Homo sapiens: one gene and its partner. The protein of the gene in region 2 purifies or fractionates together with the protein of the main gene of each other region. This does not show direct contact. Each region holds a gene or a part of one and is shown on either strand. Other genes may lie near its edges.

Region 1 (3,750 bases), on a different chromosome or scaffold from region 2:
ACGTGATACAACACACATTAATGTTCTTGTATACTGCATGTCTTTCCTTATTATAACGTAAGCTCTATGAGACTAAGGGCTGTCTCTACTGCTACTACACGTGGTTCGGTACATACAACAGTGCCTGTTACATAGTAGGTAGGCAGTAAGTATGCTGAATGAATGAATCATTTTTTTGTCCTTGAATCTGACTGTACCTTAATAAGCCTTTCCCTCTTTTGTTATGCCAGTTTGAACAGGGTTTCCTGATATATACAACCTAAGAGTTGTAAATGGTATTAACAGTTTTGTTCTCCATTTACTGTGAATATGATTTTGATCTCTAGTTCATTTCACAAAAATGATATTTCACTATATTACTGCAGTCTGGATGCACCTACTTCTCTCAGTCCTTTTTAGTTTGTACCCTTTCTAAGAATGTAAAAATATCCCAAAGTTTGTGAGCTTCACAAGGACAAAAACTGTGTCCCAATCATCTTGGTATTCCCTTGGACATGTATAGCAGAAATTAGGGCTCAGTAAATAGCTACTGAATTGAACAAAATCCCCAGGTCCTTCCCTATCTCTCCTTCGCACACTTCCTATTGCACTAGTGTTATCTTCTGAGTGGTGGCTCCTATTTGCCTTGGTCCATCCAGGACTTCTTTTGGGTTGAAACATTAAGAAAATTAGTATATTTATACTTTTTTGGCATCTCCCGTTTTTGAACAAGACTGGTTAAATGAAAATCATTTACCCATATATTAATATGGGTAAGCAAATATAGGTTCAAAAAGAAAAAGAGATGACTTCAAAAACAGTCATCTCTTTAAAAATCGAAACATCAAAAGGTTAACATAAATTAATTTCCACAATAACAACACATTCAAATGTAGTTAGGTTGAAGCTATATGTGTAAATTCATTCTTGGCACAGAATTCGATCTCCCTTCTTTTATGAATAACATCAGCTTGTAACTCCTGACCAATTTGGCAATGTATCTAAATTACGCATAATTAAAACTGTCCATAGGGCAGGCGAGGTTCCAAAGGTATGATTAAATGATTTGTAAGTATTAATATATCATAAAACAGTCAGTTGTACACCTTCCCACTGAGTCTCACGTATTTATAAATGTAGGGAGTTTTCTAGATTGTGCTGACTCACAGGAAGATAGCTGGAGTATTTTTCAAAGGTTAGGAAAAGATCTCCAAGCTGAGCTTGAAATTCAGCTCTGACACCCCGACACTCAACTCCATTCATGAACCTGATGCCTCCCTAATCGAGCAGCACCAAGCAGTTATCAGAGGCTGAGCAACAGGGGAGCTTCGATGGCCCCCATCCAAAGAAGTTCACATATTATCACAGATGTTGCACCGGGGTGGCCTCCTTTACTTTTCCCCGTAAGGTCAACCCGGGAGGAGGGGACGGTTGGGGAGGTGTAATCTCCCCTTTTACGGATGATTCTCAAGGGCGGAGACAGGAACTGTCCCAGGTTATGACCATTGGCAGCTACGGAACAAGGAAGGAGCTGGAGCCCTTCCTCCTGGGCTCTCAGCCCGGCCCCAGGCACCCCGGATCTTGCACATCCCTGGCATGAGAGATGGCCCCCTTCCAAGAGCGGTGGCCCCGGAGGCCCCAGCCCCTCCAGCAGCCCGACTCCCTCTCCCGACCCCCGCCCAGGCCGCGCCGCCCACTCTCGCACATGCGCACCTCTGGAAGGCCCCTGAATCCAGGGCCGCACGCAGGACCCAGCCAATGAGCGGGACCCCCGCCAGGTGCTTAATGTTCTTCAGGGGGATGCCTTTGCTGCCTCCCCGGGCCAGAATTAGGGCTGCCAGGTGCGGGGGCTTCTCCACACCTCGGCCCTGGCCGCCGCGAGAGTTGCGCTGCAGCTTCGGCGGCCGGCCCCGGGACGGTCGCCCCCGCGGGTTGGAGACGGAGGTGGCGGCCCCCTTCTCCACCGAGTCCATCTTCCTCCCACGCCTTCTCCCCAGCTTCTCCACATCCGGGAGCTAGTCCCTCACCACCTCAGCTCGGCGCCGCCCGATCCCCGCCTGGCAGCTGGCGCGCGCGGCCGTCCCTCGCCCCGCCCCCTCCCCCGCCCCTCGCGGTGCTCGCTGGGAATTGTAGTCCGCGGCCGCCTCGTCTGGGGCCAGTAGGCCAAGTAGGCTCTGATGAGGTGACCCCAAAACTAAGTCAAGCAGTGGGAGTCCAGAGATATTTGGAGGAAGTGCGGCTTTTGGGGTGCTTGCAAGTGTCTGTAAATTTCTAAAATTAAAAAAGAAAAAAAGTATTTATAATTGCTGAAGAACTTCCCCACTTTAGAATTGTGGTGGGTTTCCCGTTGCATACCTTGATGCACCCTGACACGAATCCATTTTATATTTTAAAATGTACATTTTAAACATACACCTTTTTTTAATGCCCCTGGGTCATTTTTTCCAAGAAATTACTGACCAGCTCATTCAAATATCCTACAGGCGCCTTAAACTCAACGTTTTAAAAACTCCATTTTTCATATGCTCTCCGCACTTTGATCGACATCAGCATTCCCTAGCAGCAGAAATTTGGAAGTCAGCTTTACTGGTCACCTCTAGTGTGGCCGACACTTGGTTTTTTGGTTTTGTTTTGTTGTCTGCTAAAAATCTTTTCCTTTTAGGAATTGATCCCTCTCTCATCCGGTGAGGGTTTCCCTCACATTCTCTGCACTGTGTGTGACCCAAGCTGGTCCATCTACGCACCCCATTTTCCTTAACACACCTGTGGTCTAGGGACAGGCATATGACCAAGCAGAGCCCACTGGAGTCCTTTCCAGAGAGTCTTGGAAAGAAAGGATCTTTCTCGTGCTGACTGGGTGCTAAGGACCTTGTTAACCTGAAGCCTCAGGGCAAGGGTAGGGTAGGGCGGCAGGGGGGCTTTGCTGTTCTGAAATGGGCTGGAAGACTGATGTTCTCCCTGAGGAAGCAGAACAATGACATGTAGGGATTAAAGAGAAAGAATTCTGGAGGCATCATTTAAACTCTTTTTTTTTTTTGAGACAGATTCTCACTGTGTCCCCCAGAAGGCTGGAGTGCAGTGGCACAATCTCGGCTCGCTGCAACCCTCTGCCACCCATTCTCAAGCGTCCTGAGTAGCTGGGATTACAGAGGGGCACCACCACACCCAGATAATTTTTGTATTTTTAGTTGAGTTGGGGGTTTCACCAGGTTGGCCAGGCTGGTCTTGAACTCCTGACCTCAAGTGATCTGCCCGCCTCAGCCTCTCAAAGTGCTGGGATTATAGGCATGAGCCGCCACGCCTGAGCATTTAAACCCTGATCCAGCCAAGAGGCTCAAAGACATACACCCACACACACCTCTCTTAGGAAAAAAAAAAAAAGAGACTTTAAAGCAGGCATCTCTGACCTAGCATGCATTTTGTCTTTCAGCATGTTTGCAAGCCTATATTTGGAAGTAGAGTCTTTTACATTTCTGAGATGGAGGCTGATACAAACAGAAAGAATGGATTGTAGTGTGTCGGCTTGCCTTCTCCCAGAGGGCAAAAGGATTTTGTACTTCTCAGGTCTTGGCCATTTTTGAGGGGAGAGAAGAAGTCTTTGATGTTTTGGGTCCTATGAGAGGTACTGGATACTTTACATCTCTTAGTCTGTGAATTAACTGAGGGCCCAGCCCTTCCTGGGACTGGTGCTGGAAGAAGGTGCTTCGTGCAGACACAGATAAGGGAGGCTGTGAGCAGACATCAATGCCATGCTTGGGAAAGGGGCAGGCT
Region 2 (3,750 bases):
TATGAAAACGTATGATAATTATCTACTAAATGATGGAACTTCCTCAAGTTGGCAAAAAACTAGTGAAGAGAGTATTTGGGACTTATGAAGATCATTATCCTTTGCATTTGAAGATGACACTGCTGTTGGGCTCATTTGCTCTCTTTATAAGTATGGCTGAAAAGACCAATTGGTGACAGTTCTCAAGTCAACTGCACATATGGGCCATCTGTTATTAACTTAACACAAGAAGAAAAAAGTCAAGGACTCACTGTTGACAACATTCTCAAACTGGAAGAAAAAAGTACAATCTAAAGGTACTATGTGACTTTAATGCCCCCTAGTGCATGATGCATGCACCTCTCTAATACAGCATTCGGTACTTAAACTTTATAATTCATAAAGAAAATGACAGAGCCTATTAAAGCAAACGCTCACACCACTGTCAAAAATTCAATATTGGTTCTCCATATACTTGATACACTTGCTCTAACAATTTCTATTTCAAAAGCTTTCTAGTAGATTCTTCTAATAAACCGTCTCCAGTACAAATGGTTAATTCAAAAATGTCTTTCATTAGGATTTGCTCTGAGATTCTTTCCTAGTTTAATCTAAACGGATTGCATATTTTCTTAGATAAACATGCTCAGATCAGGAACTTATCTACAGGTTGATAAAGACATGAAGAGTCTTGAATGCTTAAAGAGTAATTAGTTGATCATCACTATGGTAAAAGACCAATCAATAAAGCATACAAAGGGGACTCTGACAATTACAAGGACTTTCTCTCCTGCACTGGACAATCAACCACGAATGAGAGCAGTGAATACACTCTCCCTCACCAAGGAGACATTCAGGGAGGAAACCAAGGTCAGGGAATTCTCTTGTAGTAGATGAGACACTACACCTCTGGCCCTTGTGGTCCAAAAGAGTTCATTCTCATTCTACTTTCTTCAAGCCCTTTCTACTTCCTTCACAGGGTTAGTATCTCTAAATTCAAGGCTCAGCAATAAGACTATTTTAAGCTTTAATTTATTGGACAGTTAATCAAATTCTTCTCCTCTGACTTGAATGATTTGCCACATTATTAAGTCCTCTCCACAGATGTTTTCTACTTTGAAAATTAGGGAACTTAGCCTGATACATAAGCAGCCTGGAGCTGTGGTTCTGTCTCTCCCTTTTTAAGTGCAATCCATGACTTACAACTATATTTGTCAAGATCTGAAGTAGAAAAGTCAATGACCTCATCACATCTGCAAATATTTTGGTCTTTTTTTTATGCTTAGATCAACAGCATTTCACCCAGTTCTATTCTTTCCAGTTTCCTTCCTGGAATAAGCAGGCATCATAACATTCACCATATGATTTCTTTAGTAATTTGTGAAATGTAAAGTAATCCTCAAGGTTACACCCCAAGTTTCTCTAGGCAGATTCTTTGTGGTTCTACAAAAAAGCAGCTTCCTTTTGCCTAAGAGTTCCTACTGTCCCATTCTGCAACTTTATTTCCATCCTCTAAATTCCTGCCACAGTTATCACCTCAGTATCATCTACATGTTTTTTCAATGTGTTCTTATATTCTATAACCAATTGTTAATAATCAAATATAAATCCATTATAGATAATTAGTGTTATCCCGAATAATACATGTACAGAATACTATTTGTTTCTAAGTCTGTTCTAAACTCTTACCTGTGGGCCAATCTGAAGTGCTTGATTTCCTGTTGCCCCTCTTTCTGATTCGATATTGCTCAGAGTAGTCCACCACTTCCCCCCGAGCTTTCCGCCCATCAGGGGAAGGGGTAAAAAATTTGGTAAGGCCATCAATGAGCCCTTTGGTTTTCTTGTTGAACTTCAAGGAGACATTGCTATCTCTGCAGAAGTCCAAGCCATCTATCCGCTCTAAATATCCTTCTTCTGATGATGATGATGCTGATTGGCTGGAAAGAGTGATTTTTCGTTTCCTACCCCTTCCAGGGCCAGTTCGAACTTTGCTGAAGGGACCTTTTGATCTAAACAATTAAACAGGGGAAAGGGTAAGTATTAAAAAAGATACTTGTAAGGTTCCTTTTTAATACATAACATATAATTAGTAAGTAACCTACAGCTTTATTAAAATCTATATTATTAAGAATATTCTGCAAACTATAAATAGTACTCTGTGAATGAAAATTAATATTATTATTAGAAACATCTATTGCCAGGAAGCCTACTTATAGTGCAAAGAATGACAGGCCAGGAGTCAGAAGACTTGTTCTAGTCATAATTCTCTCTTACTAGCTGTACGACTTGGACAAATCACATTTTTTCTAAACATATGTCAGTGCCTTCATCTGTAAAATGAGAACTGGACTAAGAACAACTAAGATCCTTCCAGGTATAAAGTTCTACTACACTGTGATCTCTGCACCAACTGAAAGTTATACTTTTATCTCTAAAACACAAGGATGGGTTATTCTTCGAAGGCCAGGAATCAAAAGATCATTTTATAGGAAAATCAAAGCTTGATTTAAGATTTTGAATATAGACTACAATATTGGTTCTGTACATTTCAGGCTGCTAATGCCCATTCATTTCAGTTATATCACCTTCAAGATAGTCTTACGTGTAAAAAAAGTAAGTAAAACTTTTGATAATAAAGGGAGGTTGACAAGCCTGAAGACGTTTACATATCATCAAAGGTGAGTTACTACAGACATTTTTAAAAAGACAAAACTAGCTACTGAATCTTGCCCCACCTCCTCCAGACATAGCCCAGCTTTCTAGTCCACAATTTCTGATTTCTGCTAATAGATGAAAACATTCAAATTATTTTACATCCAAAGAACACAAAAATGGGACTTAGCCATCACCTCAATAGGAAGAACCTATCCAGTGATTTGTACACCTAATAGATATTAACAACTGAGACAAGATCAGGAGAGTGACATGTGAAATGTCACAGTAACAACTTTTTCTTTCCTGTTTTTATATAAGAGAAGCAACATAAAGCAATGGTTAAGAGTCAGACTTTGGTGCCAGACTACTCGGATTTTCATCCCAGTTCAACATTTACTATGCCTTAGTTTCTTCCTTTGAAAAATGAAAGTAACAGCAGCAGCTATATTTCACTGGGTTGTTGGCAGAATTAAACAATTCAATGCATATAAAGCACTTAGAATAGTGTCTGGCACTTATTAAGGGCTGAATAAGTGTTAGCCATTATTATTATATAAAAGTGCCAGATATGACAATGGAATTTTTTTCATAGAGAAAACAAGTGAATCCTACACTATAGAGAAGACCCTATCCTTTTCTCCCCTCACCTTGCCACAAGTACAACTTACACCGTGTTTTGTTTCTTTAACCTGTTTTTTGGACGTCCTATTGGATTAGTATAGCGCCGTTTTATCTGTGCTGCCTTCTTTTGTAGAAGTTTTCGTCCTTTTTTCCTAGGTCGACATATTTGACATATCCACATGCCTATAAAAAAATAAAATTCCACATAGAAGTGTGACAGACATAAATACACTGAAAGGTTTCAGATAGTCTTAAGTCAGGATCTTAACTTTTTCAGGTAAAAGACTGTCATTAGAAAATCTGATGAATACCCCCTCCAATCCAAAATAAACATTAAAACATATACACACAAAATTCTACAAATAATTGGAAGAGACTCACATACACCTTCAAGCCTGCACTGGAAGTCCACTGACTGCACTTGAAGTCCACTGAGGCTGAGGCGGGTGGATCACCTGAGGTCAGGAGTTTAAGACCAGCCTGGCCAACATGGTG

Evidence for each region.
Region 1: the proteins of KAT6A (region 2) and CMAS purify together in Homo sapiens (affinity purification with mass spectrometry, with the first as the bait; 2 studies listed by BioGRID). This does not show direct contact.

Annotation. Positions count from the first base shown.
Region 1 is NC_000012.12:22,044,506-22,048,255, reverse strand, and holds the start of CMAS (N-acylneuraminate cytidylyltransferase), read right to left. Parts: upstream 2,039-3,750; 5' UTR 1,953-2,038; coding exon 1,693-1,952; intron 1-1,692. UniProt on the Homo sapiens protein: Catalyzes the activation of N-acetylneuraminic acid (NeuNAc) to cytidine 5'-monophosphate N-acetylneuraminic acid (CMP-NeuNAc), a substrate required for the addition of sialic acid.
Region 2 is NC_000008.11:41,975,340-41,979,089, forward strand, and holds part of KAT6A (histone acetyltransferase KAT6A), read right to left. Parts: intron 3,439-3,750; coding exon 3,303-3,438; intron 1,989-3,302; coding exon 1,669-1,988; intron 1-1,668. UniProt on the Homo sapiens protein: Histone acetyltransferase that acetylates lysine residues in histone H3 and histone H4 (in vitro). Component of the MOZ/MORF complex which has a histone H3 acetyltransferase activity. May act as a transcriptional coactivator for RUNX1 and RUNX2.